Regions from separate parts of the Homo sapiens genome. Here all the other regions are linked to region 4. Evidence: fine-mapped expression QTL. A gene starts in region 4. Each other region holds a variant in brackets. All regions are shown on one strand. Distances are from middle to middle. Region 1 holds the start of LINC02074 (long intergenic non-protein coding RNA 2074). Region 2 has its middle 30 kb from the start of CD300LB. Region 3 overlaps LOC105371888 (a long non-coding RNA gene). Region 4 holds the start of CD300LB (CD300 molecule like family member b).

Region 1 (5,149 bases), 420 kb after region 4:
AATGTCTGACCCCTGGCCCACCAGCTCTCCGTGTAACCCTCTTCCCCAAACAACCATCTCCTGATTTTCCTGTATCCCCGTCCCGTCTCCACCTCCCGCCTGCCCCTGCCCCCACCCCCTCCCCAGTTCAGATCTGCCTGGAGGCCTGGATGGCGACCATATGTTTAAGATGTTCCACTGCTGCTGTTGAGAGCCAGAAGGGCTGCCTGGGAGAAGGCACTCAGTCAAAGCTGTGTTTATATACACAAGGGCCGGCGTCTTTTTATTATGCATAATTATACGCTTCTTAATGTACAGGCATTTCGAGCCATTTTTCCTTCCTTGGTGAAGTCGCAGCAGAGGCGGGTGTGAGTCCGGGTGCTTGGGGGCCGGGAGATGGCTGCTCTTGTCTCCTTAACTCGGGGGTGCTGAGCCCTGAGCATGGCGGGTCCCTCGACCGATCAGCGTGCGAGGTCGCTCTGACCGAGAGAACGAATTCTTCCAAGGGGATCGGGGAGCCGGGACGCGGTGGTACATCGTGGAAATGTTGTAGATCATGAGGTGAAGCCCTCTCTCTCCCTCTTTGTCTTTGAGCCAAAGCCTCAGATACGCACTCCTGCCCTCATCCTGAAAGAAAATGTTAGATCCTTCCTACAAAGCATTGTTTTACATCTATACCCAGCGATTCTCCTCTTCTTTCTAAATTTCACAAACTTAGACTCTGAAAACCTGACATTGAGAGGTGACAGCATGCTGGCAGCCCTCACAGCCCTCGCTCGCTCTTGGTGCCTCCTCGGCCTCGGCGCCCACTGTGGCCGCGCTTGAGGAGCCCTTCAGCCCGCTGCTGCACTGTGGGAGCCCCTTCCTGGGATGGTGGAGGCTGGAGCCGGCTCCCTCAGGCTGCGGGGAGGTGTGGAGCAAGAGGCACGGGGGCTAACCGGGGCTGCGCACAGCGCTTGCTGGTAGAGTTCCCCGGGCGTGGGTTTGGCGGGTCCCGCACTCGGAGCGGCCGGCCGACAGTGAGGGGCTTAGCACCCGGGCCAGCAGCTGCGGAGGGTGCGTCGGGTCCTCCAGCAGTGCTGGCCCACCGGCGCTGCGCTCGATTTCTCGCAGGGCCTTAACTGCCTCCCCGCGGGGCAGGGCTCGGTACCTGCAGCCTGCCATGCCTGAGCCTCGCCCCTGCCCTCGCCCCCGCCCCCGCCCCCGCCGTGGGCTACTGCGCGGTCCGAGCCTCCCTGACAAGCGCCGCGCCCTGCTCCGCTGCGCCCAGTCCCATCTACCGCCCAAGGGCTGAGGAGTGCGGGCGAACGGCGCCGGGCGGGCAGGCGGCTCCACTGGGTGAAGCCAACTGGGCTCCTGAATCTGGTGGGGACTTGGAGAATCTTTATGTCTAGCTCAGGGATTGTGAATGCACCAATCGGCACTCTGTATCTAGCTCAAGGTTTGTAAATGCACCAATCAGCACTCTGTGTCTAGCTCAGGGTTTGTAAATACACCAATCGACACTGTGTATCTAGCTAATCTAGTGGGGATGTGGAGAACTTTTGTGTCTAGCTCAGGGATTGTAAACGCACCAATCAGCACCCTGTCAAAACGGACCAATCAGCTCTCTGTAAAACAGACCAATGGGCTCTCTGTAAAATGGACCAATCAGCAGGATGTGGGTGGGGCCAGATAAGAGAATAAAAGCAGGCTGCCGGAGCTAGCGGTAGCAACCCGTTTGGTTATCTTTCTGTGCTGTGGAAGGTTTGTTCTTTCACTCTGCACTATTTTGCAATAAATATTGCTATTGCTCACTTTGGGTTTATATTGCCTTTATGAGCTGTAACACTCACCATGAAGGTCTGCAGCTTTACTCTTGAAGCTTAGCGAGACCACTAACCCACCAGAAGGAAGAAACTCCGGACACGCCGCCTTTAAGAACTGTAATACTCAGTGCGAGGGTTCACGGCTTCATTCTTGAGGTTAGTAAGACCAAGAATCCACAAATTCCAGACACAACATGGTAATATATGGGGTCACTATCCTTATAGTGAGGGTTAAGCTTTAAATCATCACAATGAAAGCTTTTTGTTTCTCTAGCGTAGCAGCAAGGGAGAATAAGGCCTCTGGAGTCCAGGACTTGGGTTCAAATCCAAGCTCCACCGTAGCTGTGTGACCTGGGTTTATCATTT[C/T]GCCTTTTTGAATTTCGGTTTTCATTGAAATAATGGGAATAACATTAGTTCCTATATCATGGAAAGTACCTAGCACGGTCCTTGGTGCCTTGTAAATGCTTGGAAAATTATCCTTTCTCCTGTGGTGATGGTTCTAATAGACTGAGTTTTATGAGAGCAAGAGTGGGTGTCTCCCATCCACTGCTTTCTTTTTGATACCCTGAACTCTGCTGATGGCAGCAAACATTTGCTGAATCGTTGTTGAACAAGGAATGAATGAACACCGGGTTTGGAATCAGGGTCTTTTTTTGAGACAAGAGTCTCACTCTGTCTCCCAGGCTGGAGTGTGGGGGCTCCATCTCGGCTCACTGCAAGCTCCACCTCGGAGTCACGCCGTTCTCCTGCCTCAGCCTCCCAAGTAGCTGGGGCTACAGGCGCCCACCACCATGCCTGGCTGATTTTTTTGTATTTTTAGTAGAGACCGGGTTTCACCATGTTAGCTAGGATGGTCTCAATTTCCTGACCTCGTGATCTGCCTGCCTTGGCCTCCCAGAGTGCTGGAATTACAGGTGTGAGCCACCGCACCCGGCCAGGGTCTGTGTTTCATTTACCGACTGTGGGGCCAGGCCGTACAAGACCTCTGAGCTCCACAGATGCAAAGTGAAGAAGTTATGGATTGGCCCCATAGGCATGTGACGATGAGATTAACTGAGAGGCGCTGAGATAAAGCACGTGAAGTGTTTAGCTTGGTACTCGGTGTCAGGTCATGTCCAATTTTATTAGGAGCTTATATTCCATTCTGTAGCAGCTTGCTATTTTTATTTTTTTTTACTTTTTTTTTGAGACAGTCTTGCTCTGTCGCCCAGGCTGGAGTTCAGTGGCGCCATGTTGGCTCACTGCAAGCTCCGCTTGTCGGGTTCGCGCCATTCTTCTGCCTCCGAGTAGCCGCTTGGCTAATTTTTCTATTTTTGTTTAGTAGAGATGGGGTTTCACTGTGTTAGCCAGTATGGTCTCGAGAGATCTCCTGACCTCGTGATCCACCCGCCTCAGCCTCCCAAAGTGCTGAGATTACAGCGTGAGCCACTGTGCCCGGCCGCAGCTTGCTATTTGAAAGCATTTTTATTTCCATCACCCCATGTGATCTTCAAAACAACCTGTGGGCTGGGCAGTCTTCATCCCACAAATAAGAGGGTTTCAAGCCGGCCAGTGGAATCCCAGCGCTTTGGGAGGCGAAGCAGGGGGATCGCTTGAACCCAGGTGTTTGAGATCAGCCTGGGCAACATAACAAGATCCTTTAACTATAAAATTAAAAAAACCAGTTTCAGAAGGGTGAAATGACTTGCCAGCCACAGTGTCCAAGCCCCATGGCACTACCCGCCCCCTACCTATCCCGCCTTCCTGTTTGTCACTTTTGTTCCAATGCAACTTATTTGGTCCTTTGAGAGTGTCCCAGACTTTTAAATGTAGGAGATGCTGGAGCTCTGTGGTGTACATAAATCTTTCTTTGAAGCCTGCTTCCACCAGGAAGGCCCCCTAGGATGAAAAGACTTAACAGTCCAAAATGTTATCAGCCCACTTTGGAGAGCCCTTTTCTGGGCCCCTACCCTAGTGGGGAAGCACACACAGACTGCCAGGCTGTCATTCATACGGAGTTCACCCTGGGAGGAGCAGACAGATTACTGTGTGTGGGGCAGGGCACTTCCCACACACTTGCGTGGGGTTTCGAGCGGGGACGGTGGCCAGGGGCCCTGTGTATACACATTTTTTTTGTTTGAGACAGGGTCTTGCTCTGTCTCCCAGGCTGGAATGCGGTGGCGTGATCACGGCTCACTGCACCCTTGATCTCAACAAGCAATCCTTTCATCTCAGCCCCTCAAGTAGCTGGGACCACAGGCACGTGCCACCAGGCGTGGCTCATTTTTTTTTTTATTTTTGTAGAGACAGGGATATCCCTATGTTGTCCAGGCTGATTTTTGAAATGTGCTCAAGCGATTCTCCCACCTTGGCCTCCCAAAGTGTTGGGATTACAGGCATGAGCCGCCGTGCCCGGCCAACGCATATGCTCTGTGCTGACAGATTTCTTCTGAGCTAACAGATGTTGTCCTTTGACCCATATTGACCCTGTTGGAACACCCTAAATATTATTTAGCTGTCTCTCACCAAAACATTACAAGTTAGGCAGTTAGAGCTGTTTTTCAGATTTACCTGGCTGTTATGTCTTTTTTTTTTTTTCTTTTTTTGAGATGGAGTCTTGCTCTGTCACCCAGGCTGGAGTGCAGTGGCGTGATCTTGGCTCACAGCAACTTCTGCCTCCCGGGTTCAAGTGATTCTCCTGCCTCAGCCTCCGGAGCAGCTGGGATTACAGACACCCACCACCACGCCCAGCTAATTTTTGTATTTTTAGTAGAGGCAGGGTTTCACCGTGTTGGCCAGGCTGGTCTCGAACTCCTGACCTCAGGTGATCTACCTGCCTCGGCCTCCCAAAGTGCTGGGATTACAGGTGTGAGCCATCACACCTGGCCCATCCTGAATTTTCATCTGCTAAACGTAGCAACCCTAAGGACTGGTGACTTCCCAGCGTTGGGGCAGCTGCAGCTCTTCCCAGCTCCACTCTGAAGAGCTGGGGACCAGCCTGCCTTCCGGTCTCACCAGGAGCAAGGGAGATGCCAAGCTCCTTGGATGCTTCTCTGAGGAGACTGCGAATCCACAATAAAGGAAGCGTCCTTGGTAATGGGGAGATTTACCATCTGAAGGGCACCCCTCCCACTCGTAGGGGTGATTAGTTCCTAAGCACTTTTCTTGCAAGTGCTCTGTTTGTTCAGGGACACAGGAGGAGGCCCCCATCAATTCTTTCTCGTTCCCACCGCCCCCTGTCCCCCAGAGATTGAGAGTCAGGAGGTGATCTTCCCTCTCGCTTCCATTACTTTAGCACCTGAGTTACTGAGCCATTATCCCTTTAAGAGTTCTTTATTCGACCTCAGGCAACAAAATCCAAGGAGCTGCAGAAGCGCTTCCCT
Region 2 (5,149 bases), 30 kb after region 4:
TATGAGAACTGTACGGAGTGAGTTGAGCATAGTTTGTGATTTTGAGGGCCTCTAAAATATTAAAGCAGTGGCAGCCGCTGCACGCAGACATGAGGGCTAGGCTAAAACAGTAAGGTCAAGTTGTTTGGACAGAAAGACTACAGGGCGTGGTTCCAGCTCTTGTGTAAGAATTCCGACCACACAGTCCTGTACTTCAGCTGTGTGTAATGAAAAGGGTTGGGATGAGTTTTTTAAGGAATGGAAAGAGGAGTGGGGAAAGGATTTAGGATCTATGGGGTCAGCTACATTTATCTAGAACAGAATAATGGGTTGTGGAGGGAGGTATTGAGGATAGGAGAGTATATGGGTTTGGCATCACGGTGTGGATAGGCAAGACAATTTGGTTGATAAGGTGCAGATCCTGAACTAACCTGTAAGACTTTTCCGGGTTTTGGACAGGTAAAATGGAGGAATTGCAAGGAGAGTTTATAGGCTTTAGAAGGCCATGCTGTAGCAGGCCAGTGATAACAGGCTTTAATCCTTTTAAAGTGTGCTGTGGGATGGGATACTGGTGTTGAGCGGGGTAAGGGTGATTAGGTTTTAATGGAATGGTAAGGGGTGCATGATCGGTCACCAAGGAGGGAGTAGAGGTGTCCTATACTTGTGGATTAAGGTAGGGAGACACAAGGGGATGATGCGAAGGAGGATTTAAACTGGGGAAAAGGGCAGCAATGAGGTGTGGCTATAGCCCAGGAATAGTCAGGGAAGCAGACAATTTAGTTAAAATGCCTCACCTAATAAGGGAACTGGGCAGGTGGGGATAACTAAAAAGGAGTGCATAAAAGAATGTTGTCCAAGTTGGCACCAGAGTTGGGGAGCTTTAAGAGGTTTAGAAGCCTGGTCGTCAATAGCCACAACAGTTATGGAGGCAAGGGAAACAGGCCCTCGAAAAGAAGGTAATGTGGAGTGGGTAGCCTCCGTATTGATTAAGAAGGGGATGGGCTTACCCTCCAATGTAAGAGTTACCCAAAGCGTCTGTGATGGTCCAGAATGCTCCCGAGGCACCTCATAAATATATACACCTACTATGACCCAGAAAAACTAAAAATAAAAAAAGCTAAAAAAATCAAGGGTCTCACTAACAGGCTCATTTTAACTAAAAGGGGGCAGCAAGGTGGACTTTTGAGCTAAGCAGTGTTGTGGTCAAATACTGAGTGAGTCACTTAACCTTCTCCCTTCGCTTCTGATCCAGCACAGTGGCGCCTAGGACTATGCATGGGACACGAGGGGTTACTCAATCAGTGATGTAGAGACAGCTGGCTAAGTCTTATACAAACTCAAGTTCTGTTCATACCGCACTCTGTAAGCCAAAATAGTTTCAAATGGATCAAAGATTTAAATACGAAGAAACTACACAAGTTTTAGAATAAACTGAAATCTTTCTAAAGTCTTAGACTATTTAAAAGTTTTAGAATAAACTGAAAACTGCAAGTTTTAGAATAAACTGAAAATATAAAATGAAATTTACAAAAGTTTTAGAATAATGGGTGAATTTATTAGACTCTTGAAATGGAGCATCCTAAGGAAAACTCAAACTTTATAAAGCAAATGATTGAGAAATCTGACCTCAGAAAAAAGATGAAACATCACTGGGTGAAAACACCTTTGAAAGTTTTTTAAAAAATGACAAGCTATGAAGGAAATGTTGCAGGCAATTTGACAGAGAGCTTATTTTCTTAATTTACAAAGCACTCGGAGGAACTCAGTAAGATAGATTAAAAGCTCAATGGCAAAATGGGCAAATGGATAGTTCACAGGAAAAAAACTAAAATGGCAAATAAAGGAATGCAAATTCTGAAAATTATAAGATATTATTTTCTTCTATCAGATTGAAAAGAAAATAGAGTGTGAAAATATCCAATACTGGCGAGAGTGTAGGGAAAGGGACATCGTTGAGTGTTCTTGATGGGAAGGTAAGTGGGTGTAAGGTACATGGATGTGCTTTGGTCAAGAATAGGTTAGCCAGGTGCGGTGGCTCACGCCTGCAATCCTAACACTTTGGGAGGCTGAGGCGGGTGGATCACCAGAGGTCAGGTGTTTGAGACCAGCCTGGCCAACATGGTGAAACCCCATCTCTACTATAAATACAAAAAAAAAAAAAAAATAGCTGGGTGTGGTGGCTCGGGAGGCTGAGGCAGGAGAATCGCTTGAACCTGGGAGGCGGAGGTTACAGTAAGCCGAGATTGCACCATTGCACTCCAGCCTGGGCGACAGAGCGAAACTCCGTCTCAAAAAACAAAAACAAAAACAAAAACAAAACAGGCAGAGGCAAACATCAGGGCCAGCGTGACTCAGGGAGTCTGGCGCGCAGGCGCATAACTCCACTTGTTA[T/C]GTAATCTGTTTGTGTAAGTGGCTCAGAGCCACTATTGTCTGTAAAAGGTATAACTGCCCTGCTGACGCTGTACATGTGGTTCGGCATGGCTTGTGCCCAGAGGCAGAGAGTAAAACTGCTGACCCCATAAGGGAGAGCCAGGCTTGTAGGCCAGGGAATGCAGCTGTAAGCCTGGGAATGGCAAGAGCCGCAAAGCTGGAGCAGGCAGCCGAGATAAAGGTGAATTGTATGAGAAAGCTTCTGATGAAACTATCACAAGGACAGAAAACCAAACACCGAATGTTCTCACTCATAGGTAGGAATCGAACAATGAGAACACTTGGACACAGGGTGGGGAACATCACACACCGGGGCCTGTCAAGGGGTGGGGGGCTGGGGGAGGGATAGCATTAGGAGAAATACCTAGTGTAAATGACGAGCTGATGGGTGCAGCAAACCAACATGGCACATATATACCTATGTAACAAACCTGCACATTGTACACATGTACCCTAGAACTTAAAGTATATAAAAAAAACTGCTGATGAAAAAGCTGCTGAATAAAACCATATTTTACCTGCCTACAGCCCCCTAAATATTCCTTCCGCTATTCGCCACCCATCCACCCACTCCCCTCAGACCTCAACATGGGCTGGAACCTGACGCTTGGCATGACAGTGGGCAAGAGCTTTTTGAAGGAAAATTTGTCAAGATCTATTAAAAAAAAGTCAATTCATGGACCTTTTGACTAATGCTCCACTATTGGAAATTTCTCCTAAAGATATACTCAGATAGGCCAGGCGTGGTGGCTCACGCCTGTAATCCCAGCACTTTGGGAGGCTGAAGTGGGCAGATCACGAGGTCAGGAGATCGAGACCAGCCTGGCCAACACGGTGAAACCCCATCTCTACTAAAAATACAAAAATTAGCTGGGTGTGGTGGTGCACGCCTGTAGTCCCAGCTACTTGGGAGGCTGAGGCAGAAGAATCGCTTGAACCCGGGAGACAGAGGTTGCAGTGAGCCAAGATCACACCACTGCACTCCAGCCTGGGCAACAGAGCAAGACTCTGTCTCAAAAAAAAAAAAAAAAAAAAAAAAAAAAGATATACTCAGATATATACCAAGATACAGGTACAAAAATACAAAAACATGGTCTGGGATGACATAACAATGTGTGCATCTGTGCATGTGTATACACACGCAGTCATACATGGGGCCTTGTATGACACACAGATACATCGGCATGCATTGTGCACCTACAGCTCCAGTCCCTCCCCCAGCGCCTGACTCATACAGCCAATAGGGGGCTTGTCATCTTTATTTGAGCATCTGTACGCCCAACAGAGTCCCTGTTTCCTCTCCCCAATTCCACCCCAAAACTGCTGCTCTCTTAGTCTTTCCATTTCCGTAAAGGGACCCACCTTTACTGCCCTCCCAATTGCTCAAGTGAAAACCGTAGAAGTCACCTGCAATTTTTATTCCTTTCTTTTCACTCCCTCCCACATCCAATCCTTCAGCCTGTTGGGTTGGCTCTACGGCCAGAATGCATTCTGAGCTTGTCCACCTTCTCCAATGGCCACATCCACCACCCCATTCCAAGGTGCCATTGTGTGACTCCCTTGCTTGAAATTTTTCAGAGTTTCCACTTAGGACAAAATCCACACATTTGCGTATTAACCCTTCCCTGATCTGACCACTGCCTGCCTCTGCCTTTCTGCGTCTGCCTCCCACCAAGCTCCCCACATTGTCTACTCTGTACTCATCTGGCCGGCACCCTAAGCCTGGGACACACTAGCCTTGTTCCCCCTTAGAGCCTTTGCCTGAGCTGTTTCCTCTGCCAGGAATGCTCTCACTCTATATTATTGTGTGGCTGGCTCCTTCTCAAGTCTCAGCTCAAATGTCAGGAAGTCCCTCCATGACCTCCCTATGCAAGCAGCCCTTCCTGCCTCTCATCACTCTCAGCTGTACACAATTCAGATCTTCACACAGCAGTTCTGTGATGATCTGAACGAAGCTTGCTTTTGTTTTGTTTGTTCTGTCTACTGCCCACTAAGATACAAGGACCAGACAGAAGGGGCCTCATTTATCTTCTTCACTGCTATGTCTCTGCTGTATAGCTCCATGGTATATAGTAGGTATTCAATAAAAGTCATCAAGTAAATGAGTAAATAACGGAATGAATTAAAACTGTGGAATCACATATAAAAGAATGAGGTAGATTTGTGTGTACTTGTATAACAAGGTCTCTAGGACATATGCAAAAGTGAGGTATGAAGAATTATGAGCCCCTCCCCCCACTTTTTTTGGAGATGGAGTCTTGCTGTGTCGCCCATGCTGGAGTGCAGTGGCGCGATCTTGACTCGCTGCAACCTCTGCCTCCTGAGCTCAAGCGATTCTCCTTCCTCAGCCTCCCAAGTAGCTGGGATTACAGGTGTGTGTCACCACACTTGGCTAATTTTGTATTTTTAGTAGAGACAGGGTTTCACCAAGTTGGCCAGGCTGGTCTTGAACTCCTGACCTCAGGTGATCCGCCTGCCTCGGCCTCCCAAAGTGCTGGGATTACAAATGTGAACCACTGCGCCTGGATTAGCCCTTTTGAAAATAATTTTGAAATAATAATAAGTTTTCTGAAAGCTGTGTAAGAAATGGCTAACAGTAGTCACTTTTGTGGAATGGTACTAGGGGTAGGGTAGGAGGAAGGAGACTTTTTTGTTAATTTTATAACTTCCTGTACTGTTTTAATTTTCTGTCCATTGCACATGGGTTTAAAATTTTTTTTTTTTTTTGTCCTGAGATGGA
Region 3 (5,149 bases), 600 kb after region 4:
TTTGTTGCGTGGCCCAACCCTCCCATTTCCTAACTTGCACAGGTACATTTCTGGCCCTCCAAAGTGGAAACCTGCTTGTTCTTCAATGAACAAAGGGGCTCTTGCTGAATGTGTGTGTGGCCCTGGAGTTGAAATCCATCTCCTTGACCTTGGAGGCTGGTTTTTCCCAACTCAGGGAAAATTGCTAAGAGTCCAGCAGCAGGCTCAGTGTCTTTTTGGAGTTTTCAGAGCTAGGATGCTCCTCTCTCTCAGGCTCTTTAAGAACCTTCCAGCATCCACCTCCAAGGGGGAGGTTTGGCATTTCCATATCCTTGGCTGGCAAATTGTAAATTTGGATATGAGCAGAAAATATAGTGACATCAAGGTTATGTGGTCTGCAGCTGACAAGATGGATAGCCCTCAGCTAGGCAGCATTTCCCAGCTTCTTCTTGGTTTGCACTCTCTGCACCTCTCTTTCTTTTAACCTTTTTTTTTTAAGGAAAACATTTTTAGAGACTTTAATAACTGTGGAAGGATGCTGTAAGGCGGGCAGGGAAATTGATCATTTTTATTCGGTTGTGCGTGATAAAATGTAAGTTTGAGCCATGAATCTTCTTACCTTGAGGGAAAAGAACGGTGTGCCTGGCTGTTAATATGACTCCCTTTTTGGAGATTTTAATGAAGGAATCCCGCTCCCCACCGCAGATTAATTCATAGCTGTGGACAGGGCGGGGCTGAGGCGGGAATACACTCTTTCCTCCAATCTAGCAACTGCTGGTTCCGTCTCTCTCCACATCTGCGTGTATTCGCTGTCTATTATTTTTAATCAATGTCTCACCAAACACATATAAAGCTCCCACTGTGTGCAAGACACCATGCCTAGCACCAAGGAGGGGAGATGCTGAGGAGTATCTCAGAGTCCTGTGTAAGTTGCCCAGAAGAGGGCTCCTCTCCAGGCCCTGCCTGTGAGCACCCCAGATACCTCCCCACTTGTCTTGGCCACAGCTATATCCCCCTACTGGAACATGGCAAGAGATGAGGCACACGGCTTGTGTTGGCCACAGGACTCCATTTTGGGTACCCTAAAAGGAAAGGCAGGGCTGCAGTCTCAGTCAGCTTGGGCTTCCATAACAGAATGCCATAGACGTTTATTTCTTACAGTTCTAGAAGCTGGAAGTCCAAGATCAAGGTGCCAGCTGATGTGGGTCCTGGTGAGGCCTCTCTTCCTGGCTTGCAGATGGCCACCTTCTTGCTGTGTCCTCCCGTGGCAAGGAGGGAGGGAGAGAGACTGACAGCGCATGCATGCTCTCTAGTCTTTTCCTTCCTCTTCTTATAAGGCCATTCATTCCATCATAGGGGCCTTACCCTGTGACCTCATCTAACCCTAATCACTTCCCAAAGTCCCCACATCTAAATACCATCCCACTGGAGTGTTAGGGCTTCAATATATGCATTTTGAGGGGACACACATATTCAGTCCGTAACAGACCTGTGTTGTGGAGCTCATTTCCTCTTTCTTCTTCTTAGGGGGTTGAGTATGGTGGAGTTGGAAAGTGTGATGTATGGTGTGGGGAGAGGACAGAAAGCGACCTCTGCTGCCAGGCGGAAAAATGCCCACCCAACTACTCCTGCCACATCAAGTCTGTGGCCAGAGTGTAGGAGGGTTCAGGCCACTGCTACCTCCCGCATCCTTGCCCTAGCATCCCTTCCTCAGGTCCTAATCCTAAACCTCCATCAGCTCCCTGCTTTCTGGATCCCTCCCGCAGCCAGGCCCCTCTCTTGCTGTGGCTCACCAGTCATCTGGACATTGCTGGCAATAAGCTTCCTTAAACATCCATGGTGCACACGCTGCTCTGCAAACAAAGACAGGGCATCCAATTATTCCAAAAACAACCTGTTTCTGTTTGCTTATCTGACTCGGACTGTTTGCCCCTGACATCGCTATTGATCAATTTGAACTTTTCCCCTTCAAGTCCAACATGATTCATAATTTGTGGTTGGGAAAAGCCACCTGGGCAGTGGGCCCCCTGGGACCAGGCCCTGTGCACCCATAATCTCATTTAATGCTCTATGTGGTTGGTATCATGATTTCTATCTGAAAGACAAAGAAAACAGGGGCTGGGGGAAGGTGAGCATTTATCCAAATCTCCCAGCTTATAGGTGATGGTTATCAGAATTTGAACCCAGGTCTGTCTGTTCCAAAGACTGGCCCCTCTCTAATACATTGAGATGCCTCCTGTGTAGGCACCCAGTTTTGATGGTCACCCCAATTCAGAATTGCAATCAGACAACAAACACCAGAGAATACAAAAGGCTGATTGTGACTCTGCGTAGGGAACAAGTGTACCAAGCTGTGCCGACAGTTTGATGGTGGGTCAGTGTGACATCTTGGAAAAAATAGCAGCTGATTATATTTTTCAAATCGACATGTGTTTTTAAAGACTTTTGAATCAGATGTGAGTCAGGAGCATTAGGGCAAAAGTGTAACACTTTTTTTTTTTTTTTTTTTTTGAGACGGAGTTTCGCTCTGTCGCCCAGGCTGGAGTGCAGTGGCGTGATCTCGACTCACTGCAAGCTCCACCTCCCGGGTTCACGCCATTCTCCTGCCTCAGCCTCCCGTGTAGCTGGGACTACAGGCGCACGCCACCATGCCCGGCTAATTTTTGTATTTTTTTTTTTTAGTAGAGACGGGGTTTCACCATGTTAGCCAGGATGGTCTCGATCTCCTGACCT[C/T]GTGATCCGCCCGTCTCGGCCTCCCAAAGTGCTGGGATTACAGGCGTGAGCCACCGCGCCCGGCCAGTGTCACACATTTATATTTGGTGAATGTGGGAAATTTCTCCCATGAAAACAAAGTGAGCAGTCACTCTTGAGGTCTGGGTGCATAAATTATAGTACATTTATACCATGCGATATTATGCCCTATTGAAAACAATTAGAGCAATATTGGAGGACAGAGAGAGAGTTCCCCAAGGTATTGTTGAGTGAGGAAAACAAGATGCAAGAAACTGAATATCATATATTTCTGCAAAACAAATAATGACAAAAGGCTGGCTATACATGTATAAGTGCACACATGTGTATAAGTGAATGCATGTGGGTGTGTATAAAAAGTTACATACATGTATGTACATACATGTCTACCACATGTAGTGTGTGTATGTATATATTTATACAGGATAATATGATCATGAAGAAAAATGTGGAAGGATCCCTACTAGGCTATTAGCATGAATTTCTAGTGGTTATGGGTGGAGGACAGAGGAGAGGTGTCAAGGAAAGTCAAACTAACAGGAAAAAAAACTAAGAGTCTGCACAAACACACACACACACATACACATGAATCATGTAATGACAACATTTATGCATTTAAATAAAGGTATAGGCATTCATGTAAATACATTCAAAGAAAAGTTGTAAGTTATTTTCCTACAGCAACAGAGCACTTACCCCAGAGATCTGCATGAAGGCATGACAGTGAACAGGCCTCTGCAGATCCAGACGGTACAGTCTAGAGGCTGGGGACAGCTACTAGGAAGCCACATCACTGGCTTCCCACTCCCTGCAATGGGAAGGGTTGGTTTATTCCTTGGCTTTACAGCCGGCACAAGGAAGAGGGGTACCTGTGTGATTTGGGGGTCTTCTCCAGCTGCTGCCTTAGAGTCCCCCACCTGGTTCAGGGGTAAGTGAAACAGTAGAAGGGGAAAATAAACTCTTTTCTACTTCTACTAACATTAGGGTAACCGTAACACTGATCATTTAAACAGGGACCACTTTGAGAGTGAAGAGCAGAACTATGAATAATTCAGGTGCAAACCACGACTGTCCCTAGCACACCTGGCTGTAGGGTCACCCTAGCTATAGCTCCTAAATGGGGGGTCTACATTCTAAATTTCACCATCTTCTCCATGCAAATGTGAGTATTAATTGATCCAGAACCCTGTAATTGTTGTAACTGGAGCCCAACAGGACTGAAATTACTCTTAATTATCATCCCATCCCAGGAGGGAGGGTCCTTTTCCCTCAAAGTTACAGAGACACGTGGTGAAACCAAGGGGGACGGGTGTGTGGCTTCCATGGGGCCCTGCTTAACCACAAATGTCAATGCTCTGGGCTGAGCAGGGCTGGGATTCCTGCACATGCTCTGTGTGGTTGGCCTGATCTATAAGAGACTAAATAATGACCAGGCTTGCTGCTAGAGCACTTTGTAGCTGATGTGTCTGGCATCACCAGCTTGGATTACTAAATGGGTACATGCTGATTAATCTACAAATTAGGTTGATGAACCCCCACCCTAGCTGTCTCAAGGATTTGTATATCTCCCCGGTGCCCTTCTTCCCAAGCATCCCTTTGTTAATTCAAGGGATCTACACAGAGACTGGTATTTGGACCAGGGCAGAGAGAAAGATAGAGGGGGAAAGATTATTTTTTCCCAAACTATTAATATCTACTAATCTGAAATGCCATAATTGAGGGCTAGAGGCAGCATTTTTCTTGGCTAGCAGGGGGAAAGCTATTTGAAATGGCCTTGAGAATATGACTAACATGAAGGAAGCAGACTGCAGAGATAAAGATGAAAGAAAGACCCTGATGATACTGTTTGAGCCACTTGCACCCTCTTCCTTGTGCTGGATCTTCAGGAGCACCTGAAGTCTGCTCCCCAAAGTTGGCAGAAAGAATAATGGCCCCCAAAGACATCCACATCCTCACCTCTAGAATCTGTGAATATGCTACCTTACATGACAAAAGGGGTACTGCATATATGATTAAGAATTTTGAGATGGGGAGATTACCCCAGATTATATGGGTTGGCTCAGTGTTATCACAAGGGGAAGCAGAACAGTTAGAGTCAGGGAGGGAGATGTGGCCATGGAAATAAAGGTCAAAGTTATGCCATTGCTGGAAGTGGGCTGTGAGCCAAGGAATTTCAGGCATTCTCAGAACCCAAAAGGCAAGGAATGAATTCTTCCCTACATCTTTTAGAAGGAATGCAGCCTTGCCACCATCTTGGTTTTAGCCACATAAACCCATTTCTGGATTTCTGGCCTCCAGAGCTGCAAAATAACACTTTATGTTGTTTTAATCCACTCACTTTGTGGTAATTTGTTACAACAGCAATTAGAAAACCAATACTCTCAGCTTTCTGGTGGCATGAAGCAAATTTTCTTGAGTT
Region 4 (5,149 bases):
TGGATCCTGGCACCCATTTAAATGTGCTGGCCATGACTGCAGGCGTGACCCTCCAAGCCATGGCACCAGAGAAACTAGACTTCTGGGCCCACTTACACTTCCACAAGCACCTTAGTCTTTTATTTCTTTTTGACCTCCTGTGTGACCTGTGTGCTTCCCTAAAAAACAAAACAAAAAAACAACGATTTTAAGAAAAACTACGGGCCAGGTGTGGTGACTTATGTCTGTAATTCTAGCACTTTGGGAGGGCAAGGTGGGTGGATCACCTGAGGTCAGGAGTTCAAGACCAGCCTGGCCAACATGGTGAAACCCTGTCTCCACTAAAAATACAAAAATTAGCCACACATGGTAGCGGGCACCTGTAATTCCAGCAACTTGGGAGGATGAGGCAGGAGAATCACTTGAACCCGGGAGGTGGAGGTTGCAGTGAGCTGAGATCATACCACTGCAATCCAGCCTGGGTGGCAAGAGCAAGACTCCATCTCAAAAAAAAAAAAAAAAAAAAAAAAAAGGAAAGAAAAGAAAAGAAAAAAAAAGAAAAACTACATAATTGGGCAAAGCCTCTTTAAGGGAGGGGGCGTGCTAGATTGAACTTTATATCTTGCTATTATTATGGCCTGTGCTAAAGCATTTACCCTTAGAAAAATGGTTCTGGTTAACTTCTGGACTTAAAAATCCCCTTACTAATTAAGTACCATCTTAATCGGAGACAGAATAGGTGCCTTAAAGGAATGTAGGAACCGAATGGCCATTTTCCTGCCAATGGGACAATATTGAGACTAAAATTTGGCTATGGAAGACTTCTTAACTCCTAACTGCTAAAGGCAGAACTTTCCCATTTCAAGAAGAGGCCTAGAGCCTGATTTCTTTTTCTTTTTTCTTTTCTTGTTCTTTCTTTCTCTCTCTCTCTCTCTTTCCTTTTCTTTTCTTTTCTTTTTTTTGAGACCGAGTCTTGCTCTGTTGCCCAGGCTGGAGTGCAGTGGCGCGATCTCGGCTCACTGCAAGCTCTGCCTGCCGGGTTCACGCCATTCTCCTGCCTCAGCCTCCCGAGTAGCTGGGACTACAGGCGCCCGCCACCACGCCTGGCTAATTTTTTTTTGTATTTTTAGTAGAGACGGGGTTTCACTGTGTTAGCCAGGATGGTCTCGATCTCCCGACCTCATGATCTGCCCGCCTCGGCCTCCCAAAGTGCTGGGATTACAGGCATGAGCCACCGCGCCTGGCCGAGCCTGATTTCTAATCATGCAAAAAGAAGCTGCGGTTTGCCATGAAAAAATATGCTTTATGTAGAGGATTTCTATTTCTACTAGGTGGCACTGTTGGCTTAGAAATACTATGTGCTCACTAGAGACGTGGTAGTGAGTAACCTCACGGTGGGAGAAAGGGGAGAACTCTGTTCCTAGAAGATTGCAAGGGCATCTTCCTGATTTTGCCTAACAGGATTACTTTCCTAGGCTGTAAAACTCGCTACACATTTCACACAAAGAAAGTGTAAGAGACCGCAGATAGAGAAGGAAGGAGAGTTTTGTGACAAGATAGTTGAGGATTCTTTGCCAACACCCAGAATGGGCCGCCAGAGGCTGGGTCCAGTCCAGGGGCCTTTGAATCATGCCAGGGTGTGCTCTGGCCAGAAATTGTTAGTTGCCTTAGAACTTTTCCCAGCCTTGCACAATGGCGAGGTCTTCCCGTGAAAAGAAGCTGATTTAAAACATGGCCAACATTCCCAATGACCCAGGGGTGTTGGGGGGTTCTCCGTGTTCTCAGCAGCAAGCCTCACATTCGAGTCTTCAGTATGGCAGCCAACACTAAGTGTATGTACCCGGCTGACGGATGCCCATTGACTTATTTTATTTTAAAATAGAGGCTAAGAGTGCCTCGGAATGATAGAAGAGATTTTAAGCTCACTCCCATACTTACCACTCCGATGAGTGTCGTACCTTGGATTCCCGGCCAATGCAACAAAATGGTATGGCTCTGATGACTGGAGGAACACTAGGGTCCTTGGTCTCCCACTGGTTTGAATAAAACAACATGGGCACACGTGGAGTGGTTTTAAGGAGTGGAGAATTTAATAGACAAGAAAGAAGGAAGGAAGAGGCTCCCCCTGTTCTGAGACTGAGGGAGGCGGGCTCCAAGCTGAAAGAGGGAACCTCGAGTACGGTGGAAAACAGCCAGTTATATGAGGAGGCTGGAGGAGGCGGTACCTGATTTGCATAGGGCCCAGGGGATTGGTTTGACCAGGTATGTCATTCAAGTAGCCCACGAAAAAACTAGCCTTCCTACCCTAGCCTTTTAATATGCAAATACAGGCGCCATGATGTTCTACACACATGGGTGTATGTAGGGGCGGCCATGTTGCCAGGAACGTGGGGAAAAGAAGAAGAGGCGGGAGTCTCCATGTTTGGGTGGACGCAGTTTCTAATGGCCTGTATTTGCATATCAAAGCTTGCCTGCCCAGCTCTAAGAGCCAGGGCTTTTCTTCTAGACAAGAAACATTTATGGAGCTGCTTTAAAAGAAAAAAAAATCTTCCCAAGCACCCCTTTTCCTATCTACCTAAAATAATTTCTTAATAACTCCTATAACAACAACAAACATTATGAGCCCAGTTAATAGATACAATAACTGAGGCACAGAGATGTTGATTGCATTGTCCACAGTCACGCAGCTTGTAGGTGGTGCTCGTGGGGTTAGAGCCAGGTCTGTCTGACCCAACAGTCTGCATGTTTATGCACTTGGCTATAACACCTGAACAAATGCATGTTCAGGTGTGCCCAGCATGACCCATCCGACATCTGAGTTGGGTGTTCACTGTGGTATAGAACAGCTCTGAAATTGACTCCCAGAGTGTTATACCCCTTGGACCCAAGGCCTGCTAGGCCAGACGCCCCCCACCCCACCCCTTCTGCAGACGTATCTCCCCCTACCCTAAAGACCCTGCACAGTCCCCTCCCTCCTCTTTTTTACATAGTGACGATGCTTAAGCCCTGTGGCGCAGCCCTGCCAAAAAATGACACCTCTTTCGTTTAATAATTAAAAGCAGGAACTACCCACTCTATAAAAGGAAGTGAATGAGTAAGAAAGTCAAAGGCGGTCTAGATGTGCAGAAGGTGCAAGCCAGAGCTCAGGCAGAACTTCCAGAGTGCATCTGGGATCTGCATTTGCCACTGGTTGCAGATCAGGCGGACGAGGAGCCGGGAAGGCAGAGCCATGTGGCTGCCCCCTGCTCTGCTCCTTCTCAGCCTCTCAGGTGAGTGGGGCTGGGGCCTTGGGCGCTTGGTATGACAGGGGCAGGGCAGGAGGCAGAGGGCATTTGTCCTTCCACATCCAGGGAAATGAGAGGTGGCTTTGTGAAGTCATTCGACAAAGGTGCACTGGGGACTGACATCGTGTGCTTCGGGGCCTGAGGACATCAAGAAAAAAGAGGAGGAGAACTGGCCATTAAAGAAGACTCCAGGCTTGAGGCCATGGCTCACACCTATAATCCTAACACTTTGGGAGGCCAAGGTGGGAGGATTGCTTGAGTCCAGGCGTTTAAGACCAGTTTGGGCAACATGGTGAGACCTCGTCTCTATATAAAATGAACAAAAATTAGCTGGGCGTGGTGACCGTGCCTGTAGTCCCAGCTACTTGGGAGGCTGAAGCTGGAGGATCCTTTGAGCTCAGGTATTCAATTCTGCAGAGTTATGATCGCACCACAGCACTCCAGCCTGGGTGATACAGTGGGACCTTGTCTCAAAAAAAAAATAAAGTAAAAAGACTCCAGATGGCTTAGTGGGTGAGACATACACATAAACAATGAGCAATTGCAGGACACAATAAGGCATTGGTGGAGGCGTGTGCGGAGGATGAAGCAGTTCTCTCTGGTGACTAGAGAAAGACTCACGAAGCTGTGCACTTGATGTGCCTTGTAGAAGGAAGGTCAGTCTCTGGAGCAGAGCTGAGAGGAGAACACTCTAGAGAGTTGGGTGTGTGTGTGTGTGTGTGTGTGTGTGTGTGTGTGTGTGTGTTGGGGGACCTGGGCAGAGAGATGGAGGCTTAGAAAGAATGGTGGATTCATGCAGAGGGAGCTGTCAGTGTGCAGGATGTCTTGGAGGTGGCGAGTTGGATATGAGGTTGGAAACACAAAAGACAAGATTATGAAGGCCATCCACGCCAGGCTCAGGAGCTGAGACTTTCAAAGAAAAAACTTCTCAAGAACCCAGGTGGAAAGTGGGAAGGGCTAGATGATCTTCTCCATGGCAAACCTTGGTGGACACCTAGAGGGCATTAGGGGACAATCTAGAATTTTACGCAGGGTGTGCAATGTGTGTGGGCCACACAGTTTTCTGCTGGTGCCTAGGGACTGACCATCTGGCACAGATAGAGCAGTCCACGGAGGGACAACAGGAAAGAGCATGGCTGGGGAGTTCTGAGACCCGACTCCAGTCCTGGCTGGACTTCCACCCTTCAGCCCGTTCAACGGGGCTCTGCTCCAAGCTGACGGCTGCCCTGTCATTTCCATCTCTATCGTTCCTCATACCAACTCTTGACAACATATAGAAGCCTGATTAATAGTTCCAGCCATCATATTCTGTGGTTAGAGAAACCCCCAAATATTTTTTTAAACGGGACTAATTACATCGTGAGCCATTTACAGTTTGAATGACTGAAGCTGGGATTGATGACACTTTGTTCAATGCAGCAGCATCTCTTTTCTGCTGTTAGTGATTGCTGACAAATCCAATTTATGTTTTTGGGTATTTTGTTTTTGTTTTTGTTTTTTGTTTTTGAGACGGAGTTTCACTCTGTCACCCAGGTTGGAGTGCAGTGGTGCAACCTTGGCTCACTGCAACCTCCGCCTCCCAGGTTCGAGTGATTCTTCTGCCTCAGTCTCCCAAGAAGCTGGGATTAAGGTGCCTGCCACCATGCCTGGCTAATTTTTGTAATTTTAGTAGAGACAGGATTTCACCATGTTGGTGAGGTTGGTCTTGAACTCCTGACCTCAGGTGATCCACCCACCTTGGCCTCCCAAAGTGCGGGAATACAGGCATGAGCCACCGTGCCCGGCCCCGAAAAGACTTTTAGATGCTCAGGGCAAGTGCAGCTGATGAGGAGGAGGAGACAGTCTCAGTACCCAACTCAGGCAGCAGTATGGAGAGGAAAGCTGAG

Evidence for each region. PIP is the estimated chance that this variant, and not a neighbour inherited with it, causes the effect.
Region 1: its variant is fine-mapped to the expression of CD300LB in whole blood (INTERVAL, PIP 0.98).
Region 2: its variant is fine-mapped to the expression of CD300LB in whole blood (TOPMed, PIP above 0.99).
Region 3: its variant is fine-mapped to the expression of CD300LB in whole blood (INTERVAL, PIP above 0.99).

What each region holds. Positions count from the first base shown.
Region 1 is chr17:74,109,440-74,114,588 of GRCh38, reverse strand. LINC02074 (long intergenic non-protein coding RNA 2074) reads left to right here and starts at 1,690. Exons shown (of 5, transcript NR_184085.1): 1 at 1,690-1,943. The variant C/T (reference allele first, on the strand shown) is at 2,154.
Region 2 is chr17:74,499,146-74,504,294 of GRCh38, reverse strand. No RefSeq gene overlaps it. Among named protein-coding and RNA genes, the nearest start is that of CD300LB, 30 kb to the left of the region's middle. The variant T/C (reference allele first, on the strand shown) is at 2,371.
Region 3 is chr17:73,933,833-73,938,981 of GRCh38, reverse strand. All of the region lies in intron 5 of LOC105371888 (a long non-coding RNA gene), which reads left to right. Among named protein-coding and RNA genes, the nearest start is that of LINC00469, 110 kb to the right of the region's middle. The variant C/T (reference allele first, on the strand shown) is at 2,713.
Region 4 is chr17:74,529,410-74,534,558 of GRCh38, reverse strand. It overlaps CD300LB (CD300 molecule like family member b), which reads left to right and starts at 3,084. Exons shown (of 4, transcript NM_174892.4): 1 at 3,084-3,248. The coding sequence starts at 3,209. It overlaps LOC107985074 (a long non-coding RNA gene), which reads right to left. Exons shown (of 3, transcript XR_007065902.1): 2 at 1,918-2,012.